Homo sapiens: one gene and its partners. The protein of the gene in region 2 purifies or fractionates together with the protein of the main gene of each other region. This does not show direct contact. Each region holds a gene or a part of one and is shown on either strand. Other genes may lie near its edges.

The links.
Region 1: the proteins of CAPG (region 2) and SLC25A13 purify together in Homo sapiens (co-immunoprecipitation; one large-scale study listed by IntAct). This does not show direct contact.
Region 3: the proteins of CAPG (region 2) and TKT fractionate together in Homo sapiens (co-fractionation; one large-scale study listed by BioGRID). This does not show direct contact.
Region 4: the proteins of CAPG (region 2) and ADK fractionate together in Homo sapiens (co-fractionation; one large-scale study listed by BioGRID). This does not show direct contact.
Region 5: the proteins of CAPG (region 2) and PCDHGA9 purify together in Homo sapiens (co-immunoprecipitation; one large-scale study listed by IntAct). This does not show direct contact.
Region 6: the proteins of CAPG (region 2) and SNX3 fractionate together in Homo sapiens (co-fractionation; one large-scale study listed by BioGRID). This does not show direct contact.
Region 7: the proteins of CAPG (region 2) and CMBL fractionate together in Homo sapiens (co-fractionation; one large-scale study listed by BioGRID). This does not show direct contact.

What each region holds. Positions count from the first base shown.
Region 1 is NC_000007.14:96,119,161-96,123,672, reverse strand, and holds the end of SLC25A13 (electrogenic aspartate/glutamate antiporter SLC25A13, mitochondrial), read left to right. Parts: intron 1-1,675; coding exon 1,676-1,834; intron 1,835-1,927; coding exon 1,928-2,018; intron 2,019-2,295; coding exon 2,296-2,482; 3' UTR 2,483-3,453; downstream 3,454-4,512. UniProt on the Homo sapiens protein: Mitochondrial electrogenic aspartate/glutamate antiporter that favors efflux of aspartate and entry of glutamate and proton within the mitochondria as part of the malate-aspartate shuttle.
Region 2 is NC_000002.12:85,393,368-85,397,557, reverse strand, and holds the end of CAPG (macrophage-capping protein), read left to right. Parts: intron 1-1,931; coding exon 1,932-2,020; intron 2,021-2,599; coding exon 2,600-2,665; 3' UTR 2,666-2,805; downstream 2,806-4,190. UniProt on the Homo sapiens protein: Calcium-sensitive protein which reversibly blocks the barbed ends of actin filaments but does not sever preformed actin filaments. May play an important role in macrophage function.
Region 3 is NC_000003.12:53,249,514-53,254,146, reverse strand, and holds part of TKT (transketolase), read left to right. Parts: intron 1-4,633. UniProt on the Homo sapiens protein: Catalyzes the transfer of a two-carbon ketol group from a ketose donor to an aldose acceptor, via a covalent intermediate with the cofactor thiamine pyrophosphate.
Region 4 is NC_000010.11:74,706,367-74,710,069, forward strand, and holds the end of ADK (adenosine kinase), read left to right. Parts: intron 1-1,954; coding exon 1,955-2,079; 3' UTR 2,080-2,924; downstream 2,925-3,703. UniProt on the Homo sapiens protein: Catalyzes the phosphorylation of the purine nucleoside adenosine at the 5' position in an ATP-dependent manner. Serves as a potential regulator of concentrations of extracellular adenosine and intracellular adenine nucleotides.
Region 5 is NC_000005.10:141,408,793-141,413,425, reverse strand, and holds part of PCDHGA9 (protocadherin gamma-A9 isoform 1 precursor), read right to left. Parts: coding exon of another isoform or gene 2,761-4,633; intron 1,488-2,760; coding exon of another isoform or gene 1,464-1,487; exon of another isoform or gene 805-1,463; intron 440-804; exon of another isoform or gene 251-439; coding exon of another isoform or gene 1-250. Other genes in the region: PCDHGA10 (protocadherin gamma-A10 isoform 1 precursor), read right to left, coding at 1-250; PCDHGB6 (protocadherin gamma-B6 isoform 1 precursor), read right to left, coding at 2,806-4,633. UniProt on the Homo sapiens protein: Potential calcium-dependent cell-adhesion protein. May be involved in the establishment and maintenance of specific neuronal connections in the brain.
Region 6 is NC_000006.12:108,225,744-108,230,376, reverse strand, and holds part of SNX3 (sorting nexin-3), read left to right. Parts: intron 1-4,633. UniProt on the Homo sapiens protein: Phosphoinositide-binding protein required for multivesicular body formation. Specifically binds phosphatidylinositol 3-phosphate (PtdIns(P3)).
Region 7 is NC_000005.10:10,279,705-10,284,241, reverse strand, and holds part of CMBL (carboxymethylenebutenolidase homolog), read left to right. Parts: intron 1-1,953; coding exon 1,954-2,045; intron 2,046-3,609; coding exon 3,610-3,789; 3' UTR 3,790-4,537. UniProt on the Homo sapiens protein: Cysteine hydrolase. Can convert the prodrug olmesartan medoxomil into its pharmacologically active metabolite olmerstatan, an angiotensin receptor blocker, in liver and intestine. May also activate beta-lactam antibiotics faropenem medoxomil and lenampicillin.

The DNA of each region.
Region 1 (4,512 bases), on a different chromosome or scaffold from region 2:
ATACCTGCCTAGGAGAAACTGGAGCTGACAATGGAGATGATGGGAGTTATGTTCAAGTTGCCATATTCTAGCATTCGCCACAACTCCTATCAGTTTTGCCAGGCAACTTACTAGGTGTCTTTCATACCTGCTTCCTTCACCCCCAGTACCTCTATTTTCATAACAAAGAAGAGTTTATGAAAATTACCCTAGCCAAAGGGAACTTTTTGCCCATTTTATTGCTTGTATGTCTTTCACAGTCACAGTCTGACATGCCTGCCCACCATTGCAAGGCGGCTTTTATTGCATGTCTAAAGCAGGCTGTCTTGCTAAACTCTTTCTAAACCAGGAAGTAAAACAAAATCGGTGGTGTGAACACAGTGGGTTTCTAAGCATTTTTCTTGTTTCCTTCCATTATGTTGGAGGATAAATTCCTGGCCCAAAGTTAAAATAATTCCTACAAATGAACAGGAATTTCAGTATGACTTATCCAGTGAAGCACTGGATATAAAGTGAGCTTTTTGCATGCAGAATTGTGATGTATTTTATAAAACCTCTTGAGATTAATGTTTGAGGAGCTAGGTAAAGATGGAAGAGATACTCCTTCAGTAATATAAATGGAAGCGTGTAGTATGCAGATTTACACCCCCCTTCCAACTCACTGTAACTTTAAAGCTGTCTGTTAGAAGGATGAAATGTAGTTGTGAGCCAGACCATGTTGGTTTGGACAGAAATTCTTACAGAATTATTAAGCCTTAAAAAAAGCAAAGGAGATTTATGCATCTGCATTTGACCAATTTGGTTTGGAATAAGTTCATAATGGAAAAGTAATAAAACCATAAGAGACAGTGTCTTCTGAGTACAGTCTCGCTTTTAAAAAATCTAAACATGCACTGCCCTATTTTGGATACAGTGACTGTAGAAAAATTTCCCATTGGTAACTTTGGGAGGGTTTTCTGTTGTTGTTGTTGTTCCTTTTTCATTGATTATCAGCCAGTATAAATTTTAAGCTTTCTGTCAAATATTTTTCTGGAGATGTCAGTCTTAGGGAAAAGAAATCCTAAAGTGTTATCTGTAGGAGTCTCCTTCTCCCAATTTCACCCCCTCCCCGAAACCTCCACCTCCCACCCCCCAACACACATAGTGTTTTTTAGATATCAGTAAAGTCTTTTTCTGGTGTAACTGGAGAGGTTGGGGTTTGGAGAGTAGGGGGTGGTTGAATGTGTGAGAGAAAGCACCTCCTGTGACTGCCAGCAGCCACAGAAGACCATGAAGAGGAAACGCATAACAAGCTTCACCTCTGAAAAATCGGACCTAATAACTTCGCAAGTTTTTGATTTCAACAGGAAAGAAAAAGAAAAGAAAACCGCTTTCTCCACTTATTCTCAACCACTTGAAGTAGTGTTATTGATAAACAATTTCTTAAAAATATTTAAAGATTTAGGAATAGAAACAAAGGAAATGAAGGCTGAGTGATTTGGGCAAGGGAAGGTGTGAGTCTGGTGGGGAGGGGTGTAGGAGCAGACATCTTGCACACAGGAGAGGCATGGTTGCATTTCCCATAGAGGACAGCAAAATAGGCATTTTATTGAATCGGATTTTTAACTTTCTTTCCACGGCCAGCAGTTCAAAGCACAGTTATTTTTATATAGTGAGAATGTGACCAGACTGAGATGGTGTTGTGTCTCTCCTGCAGGTATGCCTGCAGCATCTTTAGTGACCCCTGCTGATGTTATCAAGACGAGATTACAGGTGGCTGCCCGGGCTGGCCAAACCACTTACAGCGGAGTGATAGACTGCTTTAGAAAGATACTGCGTGAAGAAGGACCAAAAGCTCTGTGGAAGGGAGCTGGTGGTATGGAAATAATGTGTTCTTAACTAACTCTTTGGTATCAGGTAAATTTTTAAAATATCTAATTATATCTGTGATTTCTCCATTTTTTTAAAGCTCGTGTATTTCGATCCTCACCCCAGTTTGGTGTAACTTTGCTGACTTACGAATTGCTACAGCGATGGTTCTACATTGATTTTGGAGGAGTGTAAGTATCATGCTAAATCTGCTGCTAAATTTTGGCTGCTGCTAATGCTCTGTTGTCGTAGGGAAAGGTACCTCAGTCTAGTCTCTATAATAAAATAGAAGAGATTTAGGGAAATGTTGAAATTGTGTTAACAAGGTCATTTCCAAGGGGAACATACAACTGATGAGAATGTATCAACTCCTTTACATTAAATATTTGAACAGGTTTTGAATGTTATTTTTATCAAGTTAAAACAAACAAAAAATACAGCTTCTTACTCTGTTTTCTCTTCTTTTAGAAAACCCATGGGATCAGAGCCAGTTCCTAAATCCAGGATCAACCTGCCTGCCCCGAATCCTGATCACGTTGGGGGCTACAAACTGGCAGTTGCTACATTTGCAGGGATTGAAAACAAATTTGGACTTTACCTACCTCTCTTCAAGCCATCAGTATCTACCTCAAAGGCTATTGGTGGAGGCCCATAGGAAGATCAGCCCTGGGATAGTGCTGTCTTTTTGTGGGTACTGCAGTAAAGAACATCCCTCCTGGGAATGAAGCAATGCTTCATCCCTTTTACGTCCATCTCTTGTTTAAATTCAAGTCCAGGCTTTTTTATCATGTGAAATCATTCATTTTCTGGGTGTTTTCTTAACCAGATCATTGTGAAATTATTCATAATTATTATTTGGCCCTCTGCCCAGAAACCTTTGTTTGCATCTGAAAATTGATGGGATTTGGTCAACACTAACATGATTTGGGGAAAGGAGCAAGTCAGAATAGAAATTAGTACTCCCCTCCTTGAACTAGGATTGTAGTCCCAAAGAGGCTACTGTAAGGCAATCATGGTGCTCAGAGCAGTGTTTCGTGTGTGTTTTAAACTGGTAGGAAACTAGGTGCATATTTATAAAAATAAAAAACACTGGGAGAAATGAAAAAATATATATCAAATATATTCAGCCTGGCTTCAAATTGTAAGCATGCACAAATTCTGTCTCTGGATTATATTATGAAGCTTTTATGTGAAACATGTTTCTTTGTAATGAAAACCACATTGGAGATGTTTAGTAATCATATTGTTACTGGTACCAAGACTACTAGGGAAATGCCTTTGTACTTTAGGGAAGTACTTTTGGCATTTTACTGTACAGACAGAAAAAACTGAGATGTAGCCCCTCTCCTGGAAGTGCTAATTTTGAAAAACTGCTCATATGATGTACATGTACTGATTACTGCCTATTTTAATAAACACTCTTGAAAAATGCATGTTGCCCTGTTGCTGCCTGCCCTATTCTCCTCATCTCCCCATCATTGGTACCCACTTGCTTTTAAAATCCACTTTATCTTGAATAATGTAAGACAAATATGTTCTGACATAAGTATTTAATTCATGTTGCCTTGCATAATGGTCAGAGGCGCATGAATTTGTGAAGGTGGAAATAAACTATTTGTAAAGTGATTGAGTTGTTTGGTCTTGTGCATGTTGCATGGTGAGTGGATACAGTAATTGTCATTATTGGCCTACATGTTTTGTTTTGAGGGGAATTTTATTCATATTGGCATGGATATATCCTCAGTATCTTTCAAGGTAATGTGTTCCCTCATTTTCATGGTTCAAAGTGAGTACAAGAAACTGTATTTAACCATAGATAAGCAAAGAACTAGCAAACTGACACCTTAGTTCTAGTCATTCCAGCACTTTCGGCAGTTTATTGTGATGATGAAGGTCACATAGTTTTAGTAGAACTTAGCCATGAAAACTGGTATGAAATGGCAGTCGTATTTTCTAATCCAGTCTGACTCTTGCACACACCAAAACCATATACCACTGTATCTAACATTTGCTATTATTTGGCTAGCACTATAATGATTTGGGGAAAGAAGCTAGTCTTGAACAGGATTTAAGGCTATTCTTAGACCGTGATCATGCTTCCAAAGAGGCTACTAATTAATCTGTTGGCAGTCTGTATGAACATTTTGAGTTTCCAAAGTTTTTCTCCATAGCAGACAGCCATTTGTCAGTCTGTTTCTGTAAGTCAACAGGCTGACATTTGAAGTTACAGTTTAAAATTGGCAAGAGTCAATACCCGCCATAAATGGCTGATTTTTTAGAGGGGGAGGGTCAGGAGGGGAGTGAAGAGCTTTGTCTTCTTCACTAGAAACAGGACAGATAACATACATGGCTCCTTCTGTGATTATTTGACAAAACCAAAGGGGAATCCCCTCCCCAAATTCAGTGTGATAAGTGATAAATATCTGTATTATAATCTCAGAGACTAGTCACAGAACTCCAAATATGTGTTAGAAATGTGGTTGGTGTTAGAACAAAACATGCCAACTTTGGTCTTTTGAATGTGGAGAAAAGGCCCTGCATCTCTGCATTCCTTTTCTTCACTTGTTTGAGATTTTATGGCAGATCAAGTTTTCTTGGTAAAAACACTGACCAAAAATCTCATAACTTGTCCATGGCCCTGCCTGCCTCTTAAAGAGCAGTTGCATTTAATGAGAGAGCACCCTG
Region 2 (4,190 bases):
CTAATTTTTGTATTTTTAGTAGAGATGGGGTTTCACTACCAGGCTGGTCTCGAACTTCTGACCTCAAGTGATGCACCGGCCTCGGCCTCCCAAAGTGCTGGGATTACAGATGTGAGCCACTGCCTCGCCATTTTCTCTTTGCTGTTCCCACCTCCTAAATTCTAGACAATGGCTCTGAAACTACAGCAAGCCTCAGAATCACCCCACGGCCTGTTTAGATGGCTGGGCTCCACCCCCATAGATTCTGATTCACTAGGTCTGGAGTGGGGCAGAACATGCATCTCTAACAAGGTTATGGGTTATGTCTGTGCTGCTGGTTCCAGGGATCACACTTTGAGAACCACTGCCCTAGCCCAGCTCTAGACCTTTGGGGCTTCTGGGACCCCTGATCCTGGGATTCTGTCTCAAGGTTTGACAGAAATGAATTTTAGACAAATTAAACATCATTTTATGCAGTGAGTGGTGAACCTGTAGAACTTGTTTTTCCAAAAGATTCTATCTTCTGGAAATAGAAACACTGTTGGGCAGAGCCTGTTCTGCTTGGTTTGACTGAAAATGAAACAAACTTGTTCTCAGTCTCTGCCTGGGGTCTGAGAATTTTCAGCAATAGCATTTGCTCAACACCCAGTTGTGGGGTCAACCAAGGTGGAGAAAATGCCAGCCCCTAGCCTGGTCAGGAAGGCAGACAAGTAGGTGGGTATCTACAGATAGCTGCTACCAGGCATTTCATAGTATTGCTTCTGAAACTCAGCAGGGATAGAAGTGAAAGGGAGGAGCTGGGAGCAGCAAAAGAGTGGAAAGCGAGAGGCGTGTGCTGCAGGGCTGCCTTTTCTCTCCTGCCAGAGGGCACATATCCCATGGAACCAATGCCAAGCAGAGGGGGGTTCACAGAGGCCCACAGAAGCATGTATAAACCGGAGCAAGGAACCCAACAACTATGGAAAGAGAAATCAGAGGAAAAACAGGAAACTTGGGAGGCCAGGAAGAGAAGGATCTCATGGGTAGGGGGGCAGCTGGTCAGTTGACAGAGGAAGGAATCCAGCATATTAATTTCAGATACATTGTAGTTCATGGCATTTTATAGCCTGCCTAGAGAGCCAACCACATCACGGCATCGTTTCGGTATCATTTCCTTGGAAAAATGTCTGGCAGCCTGGGCAACATGGCGAAATATCACTTCTCTACAAAAAAAAAACCCCCCAAAATTAGCTGAGTGTGGTGGCGTGCACCTGTGGTCCCAGCTACACGAGAGGCTGAGGTGGGCAGATTGCTTGAGCCTGGGAGGTTGAGGCTGTAGTGAGCCGTGTTGGTGCCGCTGCACTCCAGCCCGGGCGACAGAACGAGACTGCGTCTCAGAAAAAATAAAAATAAAAAAGCCTGGAATGAGCAGTTTGAGTTCTCAGGACTGCTAGCAGAAATGACTGGATTACGTGGGGTCTTCATTTTTGTAAGTGCTTAGTTAGCATAACTGTTAGGCCAGTGTAGCCCTGCTGGCATTATGGGAGTAAATCACCTCTATAATAAATTGTACCCTTTGTCTTATTTAGTTTTTCAGAAAAGGCTTGATGAATTCAAGAGGTGAGGGGTCCTAGAGGAAAAGGAGACCTGCGGCCTCACAGTCTGATGCTAGGGTGAACACCTGTTCCCCTCCCTGAAATATTCCAGGGGCCCAGGTCAGAGCAGAGTTTTGCATGATCAGACCCGGGCAGACGAGGGGTTTTCATCTACCTTGGTGCTGCCGGTTTGGGAAAATTCTTAAGGGACTGACTCCACATCTCCAAAGAGCCCCTCGGCATTCTTGGGACCCCTGGTCCATTTATTGTAAAAATTGCTGGCTCTTCTGTGGACTCCCTTAAATTTCCTCAAGAAAAATGGGATGGCAGCTAAAGAGGGTCCCTGCTCTTTTTAAAAATCTCCTTCCTATGATCTAGGGCGAAAAGCGAATGAGAAGGAGCGGCAGGCAGCCCTGCAGGTGGCCGAGGGCTTCATCTCGCGCATGCAGTACGCCCCGAACACTCAGGTGAGGAGATGCGCACAACCACAGCCCTCTTCCTAGGGCTCTTCCTGTGGCCCCTGACCCCTCAAATTGGCCAGGAAGGGCAGGAGAGCCTTGGGCACTGTCAGGAACAACCAGGCCTCCCTCTTAGACCCATCCAGTGGGAAAGCCCATCTCAATCCTTCAAAATGTCAAAATACTTATTATTTTCAAAGAGGATGTTGGGCAGCACTCTCCTGGGTGCCCAGAGAACTGGGTACTCCTCCTCTGGGCCGTTGTCCCTGGCTGGTGCCACCCCTCCTGCCGCAGCACAGTGTCCACAAGTCATCCCGTGGGGAGCTGACAGGGCTCAGCTACCGTTGGTGGCATTTATTAAACTGTGCACCCACGCCCTTGAAGCAGTCTGTTGCCTCTGTCTGTGTCCCTGAAATCTTGGTTCTCATCTCATGGCTCATCCAGGGGAGCTTTCCCAGCCTGGACTGCACATGGATTCAGGCCAGGCGCCCACACCCTCCTCCCTGGCTCTGGCCCCCTCCTGTCCTCCTGGGCAGAGGCAGAGGTGGCAACTTTGTGAACCAGACTTCTCCCCCGCTGTCCCTGCAGGTGGAGATTCTGCCTCAGGGCCATGAGAGTCCCATCTTCAAGCAATTTTTCAAGGACTGGAAATGAGGGTGGGCGTCTTCCTGCCCCATGCTCCCCTGCCCCCCACCACCTGCCTGCTTGCTTCTCTGGCTGCCTGGTCAGTGCAGAGGTGCCCCCTGCAGATGTTCAATAAAGGAGACAAGTGCTTTCCCAGCTCTTTTCCTGCACCACCTGCCCTGGGCTGATTCTCACTGTCACCCACCTATTCACCTGGGTTCATCCCCATGCTGGGGGTGGAGTAGCACACAGATGACAATTGGACAGCCTTGGAGGGGCCAGAGCTGCTTTGCATGACAGAGGAGTCCCAGCCAGGCTTGCAGGGACTGCCATGAACCCAATAGGGAGGTGGCACAGTGCCAGGCCTCAGGATCAGTTGCATCCGGGTGTTCAGTTCAGTCTCACATTCCCAACAGGGAGAAGGTTGTGGCAATGGGCTTGGGATGCAGTTCCATTTAAGGCAGTATTTCTTCGGATGCCCTAATAAAGCACTGCCAGGCAGCTTCAAGTGACATATGCCCACTGAGCAAGAGAGGACAGCCTTTCACAATTGTACCAAGCCTGGCTTATTACTTCGTAGGCACATTGCCCAGCATGTTTGGCTGGTGAGCCCAGGGCCACTGCAGGGCTGTGCGAAAAGCACCAGGCTAGCATGGACAGTCTTCAGTCTGGTTCTTACCCTGCCTCTGTGATCCTAGGCAAGTTACTTTCCTTTGCTAGACCTTAGTTCATTCTCTTGGGTAATGAAGTGGTGGTGGGATGTCAGAGGCTAGAGAGCTAAATAGCAGGGAGAATGCAGTAGCCAAGAAGAGGTCCCATCTGAGAAGGCATGCCCAGGGGCCAAGAGCAGGGTGTGAGTGAGCCTGTGTCAGCTTGGACCAGAGGCCGTGAGGCCTGGCAAGGCTGCAACCACCCTGACTCATCCTCACCCCCAGGTCCTCTGGACTATGTGGCTTCTGAGCTCCAGAAATTGGATTCTTTCATCCCAAAACAAAAATTCTGATCAATTGGCAAGTTGAACTTGCTGATTTGTGCCAAGAACCATACCATAGATACCCCAGCCGGGTGCGGTGGTTCACGCCTATAACCCCAGCACTTTGGGAGGGCAAGACGGGCGGATCATTTGTGATCAGGAGTTTGAGACCAGTCTGGCCAACATGGAAACCCTTTCTCTACTAAAAATACAAAAAATTAGCCGGGCATGGTTGCGCATGCCTGTAATCTCAGCTACTTGGGAGGCTGAGGCAGGAGAATCGCTTAAACCCGGGAGGTAGAGGTTGCAGTGAGCCGAGATTGCACCACTGCACTCCAGCCTGGGTGACAGAGACTCCGACTCAAAAAATAAAAATAAAAAAGAAATGAGCTCCTCTGTGGATCTGCCTCCATGTCTTCTCCATAGACTTCTTAGCCCTACTTGACAGCCTACACAAAGAGCAGGTGCCAGGGATGGTTTTTTAAAGGGGAGAGAATAAAGGTTGCACTACATTAGTGGTTCTGACAACCTTTGTAGAGACGGGGAGTATTTTAAGTCTCCTATGAAAGGCCTAGCCCCTTT
Region 3 (4,633 bases), on a different chromosome or scaffold from region 2:
CTTTCAGGGCTAGATAAAACATGCAGATGTTTACAGGGTTCCTGAGCTGCCAAGTAGGTATCTGGTATGACACAGCATCATCGTTTGTTGCATCCTGAGAATAACCCTGTGAGATAGATTGTGTTGTATTCACATTTTATAGACGGGAACACTGAGGCTAGTGTGTTAAGTTACTTGCCCAGGCTGGGAATTGGTGGCCATTCCGTACTGTCTGGTTGGGGCTCATGCTGTCAGGAATGCTTCTTGGCAGGGCATGGTGGTTCATGCCTGTAATCACAGCACTTTGGGAGGCCAAGGTGGGAGGATTGCTTGAGCCCAGGAGTTCCAGACCAACCTGGGCAACACAGTGAGACCCCATAGCTTAAAAAAAAAATTTTTTTTTTGAGATGGAGTCTTGCTCTATCGCCCAGGCTAGAGTGCAGCAGCACAATCTTGGCTCACTGCAACCTCTGCCTCCCAGGTTCAACTGATTCTCCTGCCCTAGCCTCCTGAGTAGCTGGGACTACAGGCATCCGCCACCGCACCGGCTAATTTTTGTATTTTTAGTAGAGATGGGGTTTCACCATCTTGGCCAGGCTGGTCTCTTGACCTCAGGTGATCCACCCACCTCGGCCTCCCGAAGTGCTGGGATTACGAGTGTGAACCACTGCCCCCGGCCAAACATTTTTTTTAATTGGCTAGGTGTGGTGATGTGTACCTGTAGTCCCAGCTACATGGGAGGCTGAGGCAGAGGATCACTTGAGCCCAGGAAGTTGAGGCTGTAGTGAGCCTTGAACATGCCACACACTGCAGCATGGGTGACAGAGTGAGACTGTGTCTCAAAAGAAAGAAAGAGAGAGAGAGAGAAAGAAAGAAAGGCCAAGAAAAGAAAAATAGTTGGGCATGGTGTTACATGTATGCCAGCACTTTGGGAGGCCAAGGCAGAAGGTTCGCTTGAGGCCAGGAGTTCAAGACCAGCCTGGGTAACATTAGCAAGACCCTGTCTCCAAAAATAAATAATGTTTCGGCCAGGCGCAGTGACTCATCCCTTTAATCCCAGCACTTTGGGAGGTGTAGGCGAGTGGATCACCTGAAGGTCAGGAGATCGAGACCAGCTTGGCCAACATGGTGAAACCCTGTCCCTACTAAAAATACAAAAAATTAGCTGGACGTGGTGGCGGGCGCCTGTAATCCCAGCTACTCAGGAGGCTGAGGCAGGAGAATCACTTGAACCCGGGAGGCAGAAGTTGCGGTGAGCTGAGATTGCACCATTGCACTCTGGCCTGGGCAACAAAATTGAAACTTCTTCTCAAAAAAAAAAAAGAATGCCTCTTGGGCAAGCAGTCTGTGCCAGGCTGGAGAATGGTGAAAAAGGTGAAAGGGAAGGCCAGGTACAGCCGCGGTGGATATTAGTCAGTCTGAAAGGCACTTGGAGAGAAATAAGATTTACAAATGTAGGGTGCTCCAAAAGAGTGGAATGTCAAGTGTGTCTCCTAGTTCTTTGTTAGGCAAAGTCTGATTTCCTCACCGCCGTTACCCCTCCGGAAACATACTGTGGTGTCCGAGAGTTACACCATGTTTACATTGTAATGTCTTGGAGAGGGAAGCTCACTGAACTCAAAAAATATCCATTTGCAAAAGAAAAAAAGGATATGTAAAATACAGTGACTGTGTGTGTGTATGTATATGTTTAAAATATGCAAAAAAGGAGGGAAAACTTATTTTTCAGAAGGAAATAACGTTGCTATGCAACCCATATTTTGAAAGTTGTGAGCCAAGAGTATGTGTGTGTTTGCACCCAAAAGCTAATCAAGGAAGACTTGAGACACAGGTAGTCTTCTGTTTCTTGTCCCCAGATGTTTATCTTGAGGCCCACTGTTCCCTCTCTGCAATGAGGCATAGAGTGAAGGCTCAGTCCGGAAGCCCTGGCCCAATCTGGGCTGTAGTCACAGCTAAAGTGACAGTTTGTCAGAATGTCCCCTTTTCTGGGGGAGCTCACAGGACTTTGATCCAGTTCTTTTTCTTTTGAGATGGAGTTTCACTCTTGTTGCCCAGGCTGGAGTGCAATGGTGCGATCTTGGCTCACCACAAACTCCGCCTCCCAGGTTCAAGCAATTCTCCTGCCTCAGCCTCCCAAGTAGCTGGGATTACAGGCATGCACCACCACGCCCGGCTAATTTTGTATTTTTACCCCGTAGAGACGGGGTTTCTCCATGTTGAGGTTGGTCTTGAACTCCTGACCTCAGGTGATCCGCCCGCCTCGGCCTCCCAAAGTGCTGGGATTATAGGCGTGAGCCACCGCTCCTGGCCCCTTTTCCTTTTTTCTTTTTTTTTAAGACAGGGTCTTGCTGTGTCACCCACCAGGTCTGGAGTACAGAGGCACAGTCATGGCTCCCTGCAGTCTTGAACTCCTAGGCTATAGCAATCCTGCCTCACCCTCCTGGGTAGCTGGGACCACAGACATGTGCTACCATGTCTAGCTTTGGTCCAATCTTTTGCTGGCCACTTACTGAGACAGGATTTGTACATTCTGTGAGGACCCAGGCTCGTTTCTCGATAGCTTTCCCATTCCTATGCCATTGCTGACCCGTGTGCAGTGAACCTCACCAGGCCCAGGAAGCAGGGACACTGGCCTCTGTCAGGAGTTGGGCCTGGAGGTGAAGGGACAGACCTCACAGAAGGCTCTTTGTTGAGGCAGCGCCCACAGTGGCTAGAGCTTCTCTGGGGTCATCTCCTTCCATGGGCTGAAGGAATTATGGCAAGGGTCCAGCTCATCCTGGCTTTAAAAAAACAAAACCCCAGTGGCCTTGTCAGAAGTGGCCTGGATGCTGAGGCTGGTGGCAAAGATTTCTCAGTTCTCACCAGGGCCAGACTGTGGTGTTATCCAAACAGTGCAAGTGTCATCTGAGGACTCCATCACAGTCAGGCCTGATTCAAAAGGGAAGGTGGTCTGTGCTTTCAACAAGTCCCCCCAGGGTTTCTGACCCACAGCTTTGGGGAGGTTAATGCCTGGCCAGTCCTGGCTGGTGGACACAGGAGATGAGTCCAACCCTGGCTCTGTTCCTAGTGGCTGTGCCTTTGTCAGAAAGGCCCTTCCGGCCAGGTGCGGTGGCTCATGCCTGTATTCACAGCACTTTGGGAGGCCAGGGTGGGAGGATTGCTTGAGCCTGGGAGTTCAGGACCAAACTGGGCAACATAGTGAGACCTCATCTCTACAAAAAAAAGAAAGAGCTGTGCATGTGCCTGTAGTCCCAGCTACTTGGGAGGCTGAGGTGTGAGGATCACTTGAGCCCAGGAGTTCAAGGCTGCAGTGAGTTATGATCATGGCTCTGCACTCCAGCCTGGGCAACAGTGAAACCCTGGCTCTTAAAAAAACAAAACAAAACAAAAAAACCTTCCTATCTCAGGTTCTCAGTTGCCCAGGCTAGAATGCTGTGGCGTGATCTCTGCTCACTGCAGCCTCCGCCTCCTGGGCTCAAATGATGCCCTCATCTCAGCCTCACAAGTAGCTGGGACCACAGGCATGAGCCACTATGCCTTGGCTAATTTTTGTATTTTTTGTAGAGTTGAGGTTTTGTCATTTTGCCCAGGCTGGTCTCAAACTCCTGGGCTTAAGCGATCCACCTGCCTCAGCTTCCCTAGAGTACTGGGATTACAGGCCATTTTCTCCATCTTGAAAGGAGAGGTTCATGGATAGGTGGTTTCAAACTGGGTGCCTCAGGAGTAGGGCTGGGGATGGAGTGAGTGGGCTCCGGGGTCCCACCGCCCGCTGTTGCTGATTTTACATCCTGGTGCTCTTTGTGCCCTTAAAGTGGCTGGGGTTGTATCCCAGTTTACCCAGCTCTGACATCCAGGTGCTTTGGCTGAAGGCTTGAGGGCCTCCTGGGGTCTCTGGCCCCATGTGGCTCCGCCTCTCTGGGCCTGTTTCTGTTTTTGGGCTGCCTCAGGACCCATCCTGGCCCTGACTGAGGCAAGAGCATGACCGTTGAGATTGCCCCAGCAGCAGCATTTCCTCACTCAGTGTGAAGACACTGGCCACCCTGGGGTGGCTTGGTTCTCTGCCCGAGTGACCTCTCCTCTGCAGGGCTGGTGGTCGGTGTTTTAAGAAACTGGAAGTGAAGTACAGCACCTAGTTAGGATCTGGCTGAGACTTTGTCGTGGCTTCCTATGGACTCTAACTGATGTCCGGCCCCTGTTGTGGCTCTGACCCCTCAACATTCATTGTCTCTTGTGGCAGGCTTGTTGTCACTGTCGCCTAGTTCCACAAAATCAGGAACTCCCTTCTTGCCACAGACCAGTTTGCCCTGGGTGCTGGGGACACTTCTAGAGGTCAGGGACCTGCACAGAGCTAGGTCCTCAGGCAGGCTCTGCTCCTGCCCTGAATGGAGAGGCAAGGTAGGGGAGAGAGGATGTGCTGGGAGCTGGGGTGAGCCCACCTGCAGATGGGGGTTGCTCAGAAGTCAGTTGCATTTGTGCACTGGGTGGAATCTCCGAGGACTACACAGCTGGAAGGGAAGTGTGGACGCCCAAGAACTTCCTCTACTGAGCTCTCCTAGCACCTTTTTCTTCATTTATTTGTTTGTTTGACAGAGTCTCGCTCTGTCACCCAGGCTGGAGTGCAGTGGGGCGGCGATCTTGGCTCACTGTAACCTCC
Region 4 (3,703 bases), on a different chromosome or scaffold from region 2:
TTCTTCTATGTTTTCTCCTCAAGAGTTTTAGGATTTTATTCCTTACATTTATGTCTGTGATTCATTTCAAGTGAATTTTTGTAGATAGTGTAAGGTAAAGGTTGAAATGCTTTTTTTTCACACAATTTGTTAAAGTGTCCTTTCTTGATGGGATTGTTTGGGCACCTGTGTCAAAAATCAGTTGGCTATACAGAAGTAGGTTTATTTCTGGACTCTGTTCAGTTCCATTGATCTATTTGTCTATATGCTAATACCATAGTGTCTTGGTTATTATCATTCTATAATAAATTTTGAAATCAGGTAGTATAAATCCTCTGGCTTTGTTCTTCTTTTTCAAAGTTGAGTTTTTGCTAACCTAGGTCCTTTGAATTTCCATATAAATTTTAGAAGCAGCTTGTCAGTTTCTATAAGAAAAATCTGCTAGAATTTTTATTAGTATTCCAATGAATTAATAGAAAAATTCCTGCAGAACTGATAATATTGAATCTTCTGACCTTTGAACACTTTATGTCTATTTATTTAGGCTTCTTTTATATTTCTCAGCATTGTTTTGTCATTTTCAATGTGCAGGCCCTACACAACTTCTGTCAGATTTATTCTAAGGTACTTCAAATATTTGAAGTATGTGAAGTACCTTAGAATAAATATGGATAAATATTCTTAACTTTTTAATCAATTTTTGTTTTTGAGACAGGGTCCTACTCTGTTACCCAGGTTGGGGTGCAGTGATATGATCATAGCTAACCACAGCCGCAACCTTCCAGGCTTAAGCAATCCTCTCACCTCAGCCTCCTGAGTAGCTAGGTCTACAGGCATGCACCAACATGCATGGCTAATTTTTGTATTTTTTGTAGAGACAGGATTTCGCCATGTTGCTCATGCTGGTCTCAAACTCCTGAGCTCAAGCAATTCACCCATCTTGGCCTCTCAGAGTGCTGGGATTATAGGCATGAGCCACGATGCCTGGCTTATTCTTAGTAACTTCTAATTGTTCATTGCTCGTATGTATAATTATATATACACATTACCAGTATAGATAATTTACTTTTGTATTTTTAGTAGAGACGGTGTTTCACCATGTTGATTTTGAGACCCTATCAACATATGCTTCCCTGGCTGGGTGTGGTGGCTCACGCCTGTAATCCCAGCACTTTGGGAGGCCAAGGCAGGCGGATCACCTGAGGTCAGGAGTTTGAGAACAGCCTGGCCAACATGGTGAAACCCCATCTCTACTAAAAATACAAAAATTAGCTGGGCGTGATGGAAGGCACCTGTAATCCCAGCTACTCGGGAGCCTGAGGCAGAAGAATGGCTTGAACCTGGGAGGCAGAGATTGCAGTGGGCCAGGATCATGCCATTGCACTCCAGCCTGGGCAACAAGAGTGGAACTCCACCTCAAAAAAAAAAAAAAAAAGGAAGACCAGATTGACTTGATGGCAAGTTGTTGTGTCTCAACTTGAGCTCTTTAGAATAAATATTAGGGGAAGCTCATGATGTTTGGGAAAAGATCTCCCGACCGGGCACAGTGGCTCAACACCTGTAATCCCAGGCCAAGGCAGGCAGATCACGAGGTCAGGAGTTTAAGACCAGCCTGGCCAGCATGGTGAAACCCCATCTCTACTGAAACTACAAGAATTAGCTAGGCATGGTGGTGCATGCCTGTAGTCCCAGCTATTCAGGAGGCTGAGGCAGGAGAATTGCTTGAACCTGGGAGGCGGAGGTTGCAGTGGCCAAGATGATGCCACTGTACTCCAGCCTGCGTGACAGGGCAAGACTCCATCTCGGGGAAAAAAAAAAAAAAAAAGACCTCCCTAACGGTAACGCACAAGACTTTCTCTTACTGTCAAGGCTGAAGAATGAGACAGGTGCTTAGATCATATATTGGTCTGACCCAATATGACATTTCTGCTGCTGTTATACAATACTCATGTGTTTTTTTTTGCCTGTGTTCTAGGTTTTCTGTCTCAACTGGTCTCTGACAAGCCTCTGACTGAATGTATCCGTGCTGGCCACTATGCAGCAAGCATCATAATTAGACGGACTGGCTGCACCTTTCCTGAGAAGCCAGACTTCCACTGATGGAAGAGCTGAAAACACAAGCCCAGGAGTGCAGACACTGCCCTAATTGCTTCCTGAGAATTCCCATATTAATAAAGAAGAAAATTATCTGCCATTTTTTCCTACTATAATAATGCTGAATCTTAATTTAGAGGGTACAAGGGTATGGTAATGCTTGTAGAATCTTTATTATCTCAACAATCTAAAAAATGATGTTTATTTCCATAGTTTGATAGTGCCACTTAAATGCCAATTAAACAAGAATATAACATTTCAATAGAAATTTTTATTTCATTTTCAATTACTTTGTAAATTCGTGTGTATTTAGTACACTGATTTGTTTTTTTACATTTCTGCTTTGAATGCAGATGCAATTTAATATAATAGATTTTTTAATGAATTAATCTTAACATAGTAATCTTTAGCTTTTTATACAAATATATTTAATTTAGGAGTATATGTGTGTCTATACACACACATACATAAATATACCACATATACACCTGATAGTCAAATAAGGTACAGAAATTTTATCTTGTCAATTATGCCAAATAATCTCTTTAATGTGCACTCAAACATGTAATAAACTTTGGATAATTAAATAATGTGCCAAATTTAAGTTGTACCACAATATTCAAATCATAGTCTTATGGAACTCTGTAATTGGACACAAACAAAAACTTGTCATATAGGAATTTTTTTCTGTCTTTTCCCTGTGTACAGCAAACTGAGGAAGAAAGATCATTATTTAATACTGGGCCCTGAAATGACACCCAATTTGTTAATGGAATTATGAAGAACAGCAATATAATACACTGAAGAATAACTTAGTATCAGAGACCAATAAATCACTTTTTTAAGGATGACAAAATGGTATAATTGGACTTCTGGAGTCAGACTTTATATGACCTTAGGTAAATCTTCGAACCTCAGTTTCCTTTTTGTAAAATGAGATAATAACCCTTACATAGAAGGTCATTGAGATGATTTGAGCGAGATTACCAAGTATAAGATATTTGTTATAATGCCTTGTAAATGCTTTATAAGTAGCTGCTGTTATTATCATTATGATTATTTTCTTTTTGAAGAAAAAAAGATAATGTTTGTAAAACTGAATTCAAATCATAGGAAAGGATTTGGCCAGGCGCTGCAGCTCATGCTTGTAATCCCAACACTTTGGGAGGCCAAGGTGGGAGGATCACTTGAGCCCAGGAGTTCAAGACCAGCCTGGGTAACAAAGTGAGGCCCCACCTCTACAAAAAAATTTTTAAATTATCCAGCCACAGGCTGGGCACAGTGGCTTACACCTGTAATTCCACCACTTTGGGATGAGGCAGGTATCACTAGAGGTCAAGAGTTCAAGACCAGCCTGGCCGCCATGTTGGTGAAACTCCATCTCTATTAAAAATACAAAAATTAGCCAGGCATGGTGGTGGATACCTGTAATTCCAGCTACTTGGGAGGCTGACACAGGAGAATTGCTTGAACCCAGGAGGCGGAGGTTGCAGTGAGGCAAGATCACACCACTGCACTCCACCCTGAGCAATAGAGTGAGACTCCATCTCAAAAAAAAAAAAAAATTACCTGTGGTGGTTTGCACTTATAGCTACTCGGGAGGCTGAGTTGGGAGGATCACTTGAGCCCA
Region 5 (4,633 bases), on a different chromosome or scaffold from region 2:
GCGGGTTCAGAGAGAAAAGCTGCGTCCTACCTCTGGAGACTATGCGGACTCCGCGCTCCGCCAGCTCCCGGGGCGCCAGACCCAAGTCCTTGGAGATGTTGCCCACGAAAGAGCCTTTCTCTAATTCCTCAGGAATTGAGTAGGAGATCTGCCGGGCTCCAGCCTCCCATGGAATCCCGAAGAAAAGGCAGAGCAGGACCAGCCCGCTGCAATCCTTTGATTCCTTTGAGCGATTCCTTTGAGCGGCCATTGTAGTCTGGTTACAGAATTCTGCAAAGTCCTCACTGGACACGTTGTGTGTTTCAACCGGTTCCTTTGTCTTTCTGTGGCTTCAGGGTGTCTCTGTAGCCTGGGCACTTTAAATTCTGGAGTGAGCTTCCCTGCAGCCCAGCAGCCGGTTTGTGGGGCTTGTGTAGTTGAAGCCCTGAGAATCCGGATTGAGCTCTGGCTGCGTTTTCTCTCCTAGTAGGTGAACAGCGGCGCTCAGAGTCCTAAGAAGTTACTGCACCCAAGTGATACATGCAATGGAAAGTAAACTATTCTGTTGGATTATTATATTTTACATAGATTCTTTGGTTTCTCCACTCCTATCTTTAAATAATTTACTATATGTAGGTTTCTTAGGGGAGGTGTGATAAAGTGGAGTGAAAATATTGTAAATATTTCAAGATAATGTTTGGTTAAATATATATTTGCAACACGTTTTCCCAACAGAAATGTACACACTTTAATAAAAGGTAAATAATACTTATTTTAGGTCATATTAGTGTCTAGGTAAATTCAGAAAAGTCTTATAATTTAAAATTGTGATTTGAATAGGCCAATTTTATTTAGTATACATTCATACAAAGATTATATTAAATAAACTCATGAGATAATTCACTCTGAAGCTTTATAATTGTAACTACTTAATTCATTAAACTTATTTAGCTTAGGATTGTGTAAGAGGTTTTTAAAGTACTCTTCTAGAATAGTTTTACTGAGCCTTAATTAACCTTTTTGTGTAAAACATACTTTATCTTACAGGGATACAAGTTAAATGGACCTATTTAAATGATTAAGCAGGTAATCACAAACTAAAATGAACATATATTACAGTTGCAAATTAAACTGTTTGCATTGTAATGAGAAAAGAAATACGTAGAATTTGAAGTACTAAAAGTTTTAGAAAACAAAGTTAGATGTAGTGATATAGGTTTTTAACAAGTAAGTGTTTATGTCAAATGACCTGTTTTCATCAGAGCATTAATACCAGTATAAATAATCTCTTCTCTTAGGCAGTTTGTATCAGAGGCCAAAGTCCAGTGGTTCACATATCTTCAACTGTGTGTGCCCATCAACCCAGTAGCAATTGTTCCCTCAAATGCAAAGGGTATAGAAGTTCACTTCTTTCACACAGAGAACAGGATGTTCAGAAGTGTTTATGTCACTATGCCTTCCAAGTATAGAACTCTTCAAAGATTTTATCTTTTTTCTTCAAAAATCTTCTATCAGAGAATCAGAGACAGAGACTGAGTGCAAAGGCAATAGTATTTCATTTATTTCTTAGAAATGTCTTTTTTTTTTGAGACAGGGTCTCACTCTGTCACCTAGACAGCTCACTGCAGCCTAGACTTCCTGGGCTCAAGCGATTCTCCCACCACAGCCACCAGAGTAGCTGAGACCACAGGCATGTGCCACCACACCCTGCTAATTTTTAAATGTTCTGTAGCGATGGAGTCTCCCTGTGTTGCCCAGGCTGGTCTCAAATTCCTGCGCTCAAGAGATTCTCCACCTCCACCTCCCAAAGTGCTGGGATTACAGCACACTTGGCCCTGCCTGCATATTTATTTATTTATTTTAGAGACAGGGTCGCACTCTGTCGCCCAGGCTGGAGTGCAGTGGCAAGATCAGGGCTCACTGCAACCTTGACCTCCCAGGACCAAGCAATCCACCCAGCTCAGCCTCCCAAGTAGCTGGGACCACAGGGGAATGCTACCACACTCTGCTAATGTTTTTTTTTGTTGTTGTTGTTTTAGTAGAGATGGGGGGTCTCCCTATATTGCCCAGGCTGGTCTCAATTCTTGGGCTCAAGTGATACTTTCCGATTCAGCCTATCAAAGTGCTGTGATTATAGGTGTGAGCCACTGGGCCTGTCTTCTGAATATTTTTAGGCTTTAAAAATATATAAATAAGATATCGTAAATTCACTAAGTCTTCGCAAATTTGAATAGATAGGTTACTTGTTTGTTTTCTTAGATGCCAAGACCACTGCTTCTGTTCGATAGTCAGAACTTGACAAAATATTGTGGCTCACGCCTGTAATCCCAGCACTTTGAGAGGCCAAGGTGGGAGGATCACGAGGACAGGAGTTTCTGAACAGCCTGGTCGACATAGTGAAACCCCATGTCTACTAAAAATACAAAAAATTTAGCTGTGGTGAGGGGCACCAGTAATCCCAGCTACTTGGGAGGCTGAGGCAGGAGAATCGCTTGAACCCAGAAGGCGGAGGTTGCAGTGAGCAGAGATCACGCCACTGCACTCCAGCCTAGGCAACAGTGCGAGACTCCATCTCAAAAAAAAAAAAAAAAAAAAAAGACAAAGACAAAATATCTTCAGTCTGGTGACATTATTTTACAAAAAGATAGAGCAACTTATGAACCAAATACATAGTGAAAACTATAATTGAAAAAACATTGAGAAAATATTGTAAAAAGCTATGGATTTTAAACATATGATTCTAGATATGAAAATAAAGTAGTATGCCTAAAATATGAGAAACTAGTAGACTATTAGATAAATCACACACAAAAAAGAGAAACTCACCGAAGTCAGAGTCTCAGGATGTGAAGTCAAATCCTCCCCACCATGAGGTGGAATTAAGGCTCCAGGAGAAACACTGCAAACCATGTCTTCATTGGAATGTAGGGGCACACTGCATTTTAGGAAATTAAACTCTTTTGTACCCGTATGTGCAATGCACAGATTATAAGAATAAGGCAAAGTCCCCTCACTGTAGTTGGGGGGAACTACAGGTCCAGACTTGACACAGAGACCAGGATGGAAGCAGTCCCAAGTAGCAGGGCTGAGAGAGCGTCGCAGGCGCAAGGCAATGGCCAGAATCACGGCGAGGAGGAAGAGCACTGAGATTAAGGCCAAGGCCACCACCAGGTAAAACTGCAGTTCAGCCTGGGGGTCAGAGAGTACAGGGCGGTCGCTGAGGTCTGGCAGTATCTCTTGCAAGTTGTCTGCGAAGACCAGATGAAGCGTGGCGGTGGCAGAGAGTGGCGGCTGTCCACCGTCACGCACAGCGACCAGCAGGCGCTGGCGGGCTGCGTCCCTGTCGCCTAAGGCTCGAGCCGTGCGCACCTCCCCAGTGCGCAGCCCCAGGCTGAAGAGTCCGGGCTCACTGGCCTGCAGCACGTGGTAGGACAGCCAGGCGTTGTGTCCCGAGTCGGCGTCCACCGCTACCACCTTAGTCACTAGGTAGCCGGGCTCTGCAGAGCGAGGTACCATATCGAAGAACGCGGAGCCGTCAGGACCCAGAGCTGGGTACAGCACCCGCGGTGCGTTGTCATTGCGGTCTCCCACCAACACGCGCAGGCTCACGTTGGCGCTGAGCGTGGGCGAGCCGTGGTCGCGGGCCTGCAGCGTGAGCGCGAAGGCGCGCAGCTGCTCGTGATCAAAGGCGCGCTGCGCGAACACCACCCCGCTCTGCGCGCTCACTGACACGTATGACGACACCGCCAGGGGCTCTAGGTCACTCGCCACTATAGAGTAGGAGATGTGGCCATTGAGCCCCAAATCCGGGTCAGAGGCGCTCACTTGCGCAATGGAGGCTCCTGGCGGGTTGTTCTCGGCCACGTGGACCACGTAGGACGTCTGGTCGAAAACTGGGGCGTTGTCGTTGATGTCAGCGACATACAAGGTGATGCTTCTACTGGAAGAAAGAGGCGGCTTGCCCCTGTCAGTGGCTACGATGGTGACATTGTATTCTGGTGTCTGCTCTCGGTCCAGGGCTCCATCTGTCACCAGTTTGTAGTAGTTATTGGAAGAAGAATAAATCTTGAATGGAATGTCTGTTTCTATATTACACCTGACTTCTCCATTTCCTCCGAAATCCAGATCCCGTGTTTTGAAGAGGGCAACAACCATTCCTGGAGGTGAATTCTCCAAAATCTGATCAGAGAGAGAAGTGATGATTATTTCTGGGCTGTTGTCGTTTTCATCAAGGATTTCTATGATTACTTTACACTGGGTAGAGAGACCACCTCCGTCCTTCGCTTCCACTTCCATGGTGTACCTTTCTACATCTTCAAAATCAAATGACTGGTTATTCTTAATCATACCTGTTTTCTCATCCAATGAGAACATATGTTTTGTGCTCTGGGCAGTGCTTCGGAAGTAGTAGTTTATCTCAGCATTGACCCCCTCATCCTGGTCAGTGGCTGTCACTTGCAACACAGGGGACCCAGGGGGCAGATTTTCACTAAGACTAATTCTATATTCGTCTCTGCTGAAAACCGGGGGGTTATCATTGGTATCCTTGACAGAAATTTCTATGTGAGCGGTGGCACTTCTTGGTGGGTCCCCTCCGTCCAAGGCAGTCAATATCAAGCTATGAGATCTCTGTTCTTCCCGGTCTAGGAGTTTC
Region 6 (4,633 bases), on a different chromosome or scaffold from region 2:
CTTTTACCTGTTAAGAAATAAAATGAACAGTAGCTAGGAAGAAAATTGTGGCTTCCACTTTATACTCAGCCTGATACTAAGCAACTTCTCTTAAAATTAGGGGGAAAATATGAATATTAGAGTGAGAGAATACTAAATCTTGCTGTTTAAATTTCAAAAGTTTTAGTCATCTTAAAGTAAGTTAACAATATTTAAGCCTGATTTACATTTAATTTCAGAATTCAGCATTCTTTCTGGGTAAATCTAGAGCATTTAAAGTGGCATCCAAGATAAAACCTTTAAGGGATTTTTGCTGTAATTTGCCTCAGTAGTCTGACTCTTGTCCATACATTTCAAAGCAGATAAACCTAGGAATCAACTAGAGCCATCTGTTCTTAATTCTACACCTTAATGCTACATGCAGCTCATCTGTGGCTTCTACTTCTGTAGTAACTTCTCTGTTCTATTTTTTCTGTTCATAGCTATCATTTTTCTATTCAAACATATTTATTAACTCCTGATGCTCACAGGTAGTCACCTTAGCCCCATATTTAGAGTGCAATTTAAACTTTTCAGTTTTATTTCCCATCATTCCCTATGCTTTAGAATATTCAAGAATTATATACTAAATATACACTGTACTTGTTTCTTCTCTGCATTTAGCTCACACTATTTTCACCATTTTCAGCTGTCTTATAGTATGGCTAGCTCTGTGTTAAAAGAGTCCTGGCTGAGGCCATTGCACTCGCGCCATTTTACCCTAGCATGGGCGACAAGAGCGAAACTCTGTCTCAAAAACAAACAAAACGAAAAAGAGTCCTGACTGGCCGTACGCAGTGGCTCACACCTCATATTCCAGCACTTTGGGAGGCTGAGGTGGAAGGATCCCTTGAGCCCAGGAGTTCAAGACCAGCCTGAGCAACTTAGGGAGACCCTGTCTCTAAAGGAAGGAAGGGGAGGGAGGGAGGGGGAGAGGGAGGGGAAGCAGAGAGACTGAGGAAAGGAAAGAAAAGGAGGGGAAAGAATGAATGAATCCGGGCCAAATCAATTGTCAATTCTTCCGTGCTTTTCATATTATACAAATGGTATTATGCTATATAATATACTGTTCTGAAACTTTTTTTTTTTTTTTTTTTTTGAGGTGGAGTCTCGCTCTGTCGCCCAGGCTGGAGTGCAGTGGCATGATCTCACCTCACTGCAACCTCCGCCTCCCGGGTTCAAGCGATTATCCTGCCATAGCCTCCGGAGTAGCAGGAATTACAGGCTCGTGCCACCTCACCCGGCTAATGTTTGTATTTTTAGTAGAGATGGGGTTTCACTGTATTGGCCAGGCTGGTCTTGAACTCCTGACCTCAAGTGATCCACCCGCCTCAGCCTCCCAAAGTGCTGGGATTATAGGCATAAGCCACCGCACCCAGCCTGAAACTTTTTACATGTCATACATTCTAGACAGCTTTTCTGATTAACCTATGGCTGAGTTATATTTTGTAAAAAGCTGTGTAATATAAGCTTGTAATGTAAGATTTATTGTTTCTGGTCTTTTTTGGGGTTTTTTTTTGTGTCTATTACAATGCTAAAATATTTTTGTATGTGTGGAAATATTTGTAGGATTAATTCCCATTGAAATTGTTCATTCAAAAGTTATGTGTATTTAATAGAGTAATGGATAATGTATTCACCAAAATGCCCCCCTTTTTTTTGAGACCGTCTCCCTCTGTCACCCAGGCTGAAATACAGTGAGTGATGTGATCACAGCTCATGCAGCCTCAGCCTCGAAGGCTGAAGCCATCCTGACACCTTATCTTCCCACTACAGGCATGTGCCACCATACCCAGCTAATTTTTTTTTTTTTAAACAGAGTTTCGCTCTTGTTGCCCAGGCTGGAGTGCAGTGGCGCAATCTTGGTTCACTGCAGTCTCCGCTTCCCGGGTTCAAGCAGTTCTGCCTCAGCATCCCGAGTAGCTGGGATTACAGGTACCCGCCACCATGCCTGGCTAATTTTTGTGTTTTTAGTAGAGACAGGGTTTCACCATGTTGTCCAGGCTGGTCGCGAACTCCTGACCTCAGATGATCCACCCGCCTTGGCCTCCCAAAGTGCTGGGATTACAGGCATGAGCCACCACGCCCAGCCTGCCCAGCTAATTTTTTATTTTTTGTAGAGATGGGGGTCTCACCATGTTGCCCAGCCTGGTCTCAAACTCCTGTGATCCTCCCACCTCAGCCTTCCAAAGTACAGGGATTACAGGCTTGAGCCATCATGCCCAGCCAGTTTGTAGTATTTTTAACCATGGAAATTCAACTTTTTATATGCTTATTTTCTAACCTTGATTGGTGTATGTTTCATAAGGGCCAGGTCTGCATCTTATTCATCATTATAAATAATGATTCTCCCTTATCTAGCATGGTGCCCTTTTATAGATGATCAGTAAATAATAGTTTAGTCCTCCTGAAGCTGTAGGTAAAAAACCTCTCCGCCCTTCAATCATTTTATGAAAGTTAAATAAATTGAAAGTGACCAATCACAGGAGTTTCAGCAGTGATAGTTCAGTACCTTAAACAACAACAACAACAAAAAAAAAAAACCCACATTTTGCACTTAGTTATTTTAATCAGTTACATTGAATTACAAATCCTTGTAATGATGAGGAAGACGTTTAACAGGCTAAGTTAACCACTGCATATGTAATGGGCAAGTGATGTTTGAATTTCTTGATGTGACTTTAAACTCTAAAGCAGTCCTCATGCAAAAAGAGAAATCATAACCAGTTAAGAAAACTAAAGGAACTTTCTTAAGCTAATCATGGTCCTCTAAATTTAAGTATATAAACTATCAAACTATTAGCTAATCATAGAAGGGAAAGTACTTTTCCCCCTCACCCCTCCCCTTTCTGTTAGAGTGAATCAGATATAATCATGATTGTGTCAAAAGTTCAAAAGGGAAAATGGAAGGTAAAATGAGCTGAATTGGCACTCTTCTCTCAACATTGTACCTGTAAGCTTGATATGTTGTTTCAGAGATTAACTTTATAGACTTCCGTACCCAGAAGTATGAAAATTCTTAGGGGACTCTTTTCGCAAGCTTGATCTTAACGTATTTGAATAAAGAGAGCAGTTAATCCCCTTTGTAAAGTAATTTGAGAGGAGGGAATTCAGAATGTAAAATCTCACCTGCAGAAAACACTCAACTCTGTAAAGGCCTTTTTATCTTTAAGGCATTTACAAAGACTTAATATTTTAATGCGGAAGGGTGAACTTGGTTAAAAAGCCAATAGGTGAAATTAGAGAGAAATAATCCAGTGCTTTCTTTCTGGGAATTATTCTACTCTCCAGGGGACCTAATTTTATTCCCTGTGGGGAATGAGAATACCCTCTGTACAACAAGCCAGCATCTTTAAATATAAGCTTGACTTTTAGTATAATAAGAGTCTTGTTAGGTGCAATTTTTTCCTTAGTCATTTATACAATGAACAAATGTTGTGGTTACCTGGGAAAGAAAATTCAAGTGCTTTTAAATCTCTTGTGAGATTTGGTTTCATGCTTGAAACCTATACACTGTTATGCCCAATAGCATCTGTTGAAAATTCTGAGCTGTAAGGTATACAACATAGAGAAGTTAATACACTTAGGAAAAAATTGAGACCACTACAAAATGGATTTAAGGGCCTGAATTAAAAGCTTTTCTTGTGCTGAGTGACAGCTACTTACCAGTAGCATTAAGCTTAACAAATAAGTAGAACTTTCTTAGGAGTGAATATTACAAGATGATGTCCCTGTATACACAGTAGGAAGCCAGTCTTTCCTTCAGGTGGCACTTAACTTTTTTCTTCCAATTGTAAAACACTTTTTAGTTCTATGCAAATTCTGTGCTAATTAGTTCAAAGTCTGAATTAACGGACAGAATATAATCTAAGAGAATATATAGTGTTGAGTAGTATTTTTGGTAGGGTATGGCATTAGTTATTATGTTAAGTCATTTCTGTCTCCTACAAACTTTGTGATAATTTGCACATTTTAAAATCTTTTTGGCTGGGCACGGTGGCTCATGCCTGTAATCCCAGCACTTTGGGAGTCCAATACAGATGGATTGCGTGTACTCAGGAGTTCAAGACCAGCCTGAGCAACATGGTGAAACCCTGTCTCACCAAAAGTACAAAAATTAGCCAGATGTGATGGCATGCGCCTATAGTCTGAGCTACACAGGGGGTTGAGGTAGGAGAAATCACTTGACTTGACCCTGCCATGATCATGCCTCTGCTCTCCAGCCTGGGTTACAGAGTGAAACCCTGTCTCAAATAAAATTCTCAAATAAAATAAAATCTTTCTTCTCCTTTTTTTTTTTTTTTTTTTTTTTGAGAGAGAGGGTCTCATTTGTTGCCCATGCTGGAGTGCAGTGGTGCAATCATAATCATAGTTCACTACAGTCTGGAACTCCTGACTCCTGGGCTCAAGAGATCCTCCCACCTCAGCCTCCCAAGTAGTTAGGACTACAGGCACATGCCACCATACCCAGTAAATTTATTTTATTTTTTGTAGAGATGGAATCTTCTTATGTTTCCCAGGCTGGTAACTCTTGGCCTCAAGCAGTCCTCCCATCTCAGCCTCCCAAAGCACTAGGATTACAGGCATGAGCCACCATGCCTGGCCTAAAATCTAT
Region 7 (4,537 bases), on a different chromosome or scaffold from region 2:
GACCATGCTTTTGCGCGATTTAGCAAAAGGCGGTCGGGAGTGGATGCCTCCCCGGCGCCACCTTCTGGCCGCTGTTGTGTAGTGCGTGAGCTGCAGAGCGTGGCCGGGCTCAGGCCCAGGGATATCAAAAGAGGCCCATCCACATGAAGTAGCTTTGCTAGAGTGGGGAAGGGAGCGTGGTCACCTTTCCCGTGGCTCCCTGCCTCCTGAAGAGGAGTTACAGGTGAAGGAGGCTCTCTCTGTTACTTAGCTCTTCTGCTGCCAGCAGGAAGTGGAAAAAAGTTATGTTATTTACGTCTTCTTATCTTAAAATGGTTAACTTGCTGCAAATCTTTTACTTACTTATTTTCGCATAGAAGTGGACACACCCACAGGTTGTTTTCAGACAACCTGGGTCAGGCAGAGCATGCTTCTAATTTCAGAATTAATCTCGAATGAATGCTGAGATGAAAGATGAAAACTATTGTTATTATTTTTTGAGACAGCATCTTGTTCTGTCACCCAGGCTGGAGTGCAGTGGCACGATCTTGGCTCACTGAACCTCCACCTCCTGGGTCCAAGCAATTCTCCTGTCTCAGCCTCCTGAGTAGCTGGGGCTACAACACCCAGCTAATTTTGTATTTTTAGTAGAGACAAGGTTTTGCGTGGGTGGCCAGGCTGGTCTCGAACTCCTGACCTCAAGTGATCCACCCCGCCTTGGCCTCCCAAAGTGCTGGGATTACAGGTGTGAGCCACCTCGCCCGGCCAAAAACTGATTTTTATAGACTGACCTGCTAGGCCCAGGCAGTTTCACACTTCCACACTTCCACACTCGTGGTCTGGTGCGAGTCTAAATACCCACTCAAAAGACAGCTCCTCTTACCAACAAAACTACTCAGTGCATTCAAGCCAGAACCCGTGGGACTTGTGTAGACCTGAGAAACTTCTCAAGCGAAGGTTTGACATTGATCCTCTTTGTAAACGAAGGTACATCCCAGCGGGACATTCCTCAGGCTGCTCCGCATCTTTCCATACTAAGCAGCGGACGAGGTATCATTCAATTATTTAATGGCCTGATTCCCAGTCCATAAAGTGGGGAGGTAGACAGTAGGAGGATCTGACTAAATAAATTTCTCTTGTACTCTTATAATCCTCTTTTTTTTTTTTTTTCTGAGACGGAGTCTTGCTCTGTTGCCCAGAGCTGGAGTGCAATGGCATGATCTTGGCTCACTGCAACCTCCACCTCCCGGGTTCAAGCCATTCTCCTGCCTCAGCCTCCCGAGTAGCTGAGATTGCAGGCGCGTGCCACCACACCTAGCTAATTTTTGTATTTTTAGTAGAGACAGGGTTTCACCATGTTGGCCAGGCTAGTCTCGGACTCCTGACCTCATGATCCGCCCTCCTCGACCTCCCAAAGTGCTGGGATTACAGGCTTGAGTCACTGCGCCCAGGCTTTGGGTTTTTTGTTTGTTTGTTTTGTTTTGACGGGGTCTCACTTTGTTGCCCAAGCTGGAGTGCAGTGGCACAAACGGCTCACTGCAGCCTCAACTTTCCAGGCTCAAGCAATCCGCCCACCTTAGTCCCCGCAAGTAGCTGAGACTACAGGCATGCACCACCACACCCGGCTTATGTTTGTATTTTTTGTAGAGACAGGGTTTTGCGATGTTACCCAGGCTGCTCTCAAACTCCTGAGCCCAAGCCATCCACCTGCCTCAGCCTCTCGAAGTGCTGGGATTACAGGCGTGAGCCACCGCGCCCGGCCTTCTTTTACGCTAATCTTACAAGTGGGGCCACTTCTGTGGAATGGCTAAAAAAGAAAATAAAGTCCGCAAAGCAGAGATTTTACTTTGAAAAATCAAACCCAAATGTTGCAGTTTTCTGTGGCATGAGTGTGGGGATCATGCGGCATGGGTGTGGGGATCATGTGGCATGAGTGTGGGGATCAGACATCATGCCTCTGTGCTTGTTTTTCAGGCATTGTCAAGGATTCTGAAGACATTTACAATTTAAAGAACCCCACTTTGTTCATTTTTGCTGAAAATGATGTTGTGATTCCACTCAAGGACGTAAGTTGGCATCTTTTCTCTTCGTATTTATTTATTTGAGATGGAGTCTCGCTCTGTCGCCCAGGCTGGAATGCAGTGGCGCGATCTCGGCTCACTGCAACCTCCACCTCCCAGGTTCAAGCCATTCTTGTGCCTCAGCCTCCCGAGTAGCTGGGACTACAGGCGCCCACCACCGCACCTGGGTAATTTTTGTATTTTTAGTAGAGACGGGGTTTCACCATGTTGACCAGGCTGGTCTTGAACTCCTGACTTCAGGTGATCTGCCTGCCTTGGCCTCCCAAAGTGATGGGATTATGGGTGTGAGCCACCACGCCTGGCCTCATTTATATATTTAATAGCACGGTTTGACATTCTGCGGGGAGTGGGAAGTCTTGAAGGATGCATTTGTTGCTCCAAATATTTCCAACATTAACATTTTAAAGATGGGTTTTATTCAATTCCACTTATATAATTCCAGTGTGGAAGTATAACCTTCCCAAAACATGCTTAAGGAAATGTCTGAGGGAAGTATTCTCAGCATGGCCTGGTTACCTGGTGGAGAAACGGGACCTCTTGCCCCACCTCCATGCTAACCCACAAATTACAATAAAGTCTGTGACCTTAAAGACAAGGATTTATTAAACAAAGTCAGTTGATAAGGAAAAAGCAGAAGAAAAGTATGGTTCAAAAGCAGTCATTTAGCTGGGCGTGGTGGCTCATGCCTGTAATTCCAGAAACTCAGAAGGCTGAGGTGGGAGGATTGATTGAGGCTGAGAGTTTAAGACCAGGCTAGGCAGTCTAGCTAGATCCCTTCTCCACAAAAATATAAAAAAATTAGCTGGGATGGTGGCACACATCTGTAGTCCCAGCTATTTGGGAGCCTGAGGCAGGAAGATTGCCTGAGCACAGGAGTTGGAGGCTGCAGTGAGCCACGATTGTGCCACCGCACTCCAGCCTGGGTGACAGAGTGAGACCCTGACTCTTAAGAAAAAAAAGCAGTCATTTAGAAATTATTGTTATAATATTAGTAACTAATATATTAATGCAAGTGATTTCAAATAATAGATGTATCATTTTTCCATTTCCCTGAAATCTCTCCTTTGCCAGACATAAGGACTGTGTTAGTTATAAAATTAGCAGTAGAGGCCGGGCGCCGTGGCTCACGCCTGTAATCCCAACACATTGGGAGGCAGAGGCAGGCAGATCACTTGAGGTCAGGAGTTTGAGACTAGCCTGGTCAACATGGTGAAACCCTGTCTCTACTAAAAATACAAAAATTAGCTGGGCATGGTGGCGGGTGCCTGTCATCCCGGCTTCTCCGGAGGCTGAGGCAGGAGAATCACTTGAATGTGGGAGGCAGAGGTTGCAGTGAGCTGAGATGGCGCCACTGAACTCCAACCTGGGCAACAGAGTGAGACCCTGTCTAAAAAGAAAAAAATTAGTGGGAAAGAATTCAGTGTAACTGTGGAACTTGTTTCTGATTTAAAGCATTGATGTTAAATTTCTGTTATGAACGCTCACTAAAGATTTGGAGAATGGAAAGTATCACTAAAGGGTTAAAATCATGAAATCTTTTGCACACCAGGTATCTTTGCTGACTCAGAAGTTGAAAGAACACTGCAAAGTTGAATATCAAATTAAAACATTTTCTGGGCAGACTCATGGGTTCGTGCATCGGAAGAGAGAAGATTGCTCACCTGCAGACAAGCCCTACATTGACGAGGCCAGAAGGAATTTAATTGAGTGGCTGAACAAGTACATGTAGCAAGAATCAAGGGCAAGCCTTCCTAGAATAGCTTTCATCCCAAAATTTGCTTGGAAATAGTTAGATCATTTGATTTAATTTTCACTTTTATAAAATAAGTGTAGGAATCCTAAAATTGATTATTTCATTTGAAACACAAATTCAGTAGGACGTAATGCATGAAATAATTTAATTTTTGACATGTACATCGAATCATAATTTAAAAACAAGGTCTGACCAGGTGTAGTGCCTCATGCCTGTAATTCCAGCACTTTGGGAGGCCAAAGTGGGTGGATCACCTGAGGTCAGGAGTTTGAGACCAGCCTGGCCAACATGGTGAGACCCCATCTCTACAAAAAATACAAAAATTAGCCTGGTGTGGTGGTGCACGCCTGTAGTCCCAGCTACTTGGGAGGCTGAGGCACAAGAATCAATAGAACCCAGGAGGTGGAGACTGCAGTGAGCCAAGATTGTGCCACTACTGTACTCTAGCCTGGGCAGCAGAGTGAGACCCTGTCTCAAAAATAAATAAGTAAATAAATAAATAAATAAAATAAAAACCAGGTCAGTACCTGGAGAATTTGAATGATAGAGAATGATAGAGTAATACCCTAATTATTAGTTAAAACCTACAGGCCGGGTGCGGTGGCTCACGCCTGTAATCCCAGCACTTTGGGAGGCCGAGGTGGGTGGATCACTTGAGGTCAGGAGTTCAAGACCAGCCTGGCCAACATGGTGAAACCCCATCTCTACTAAAAATATAAAAATC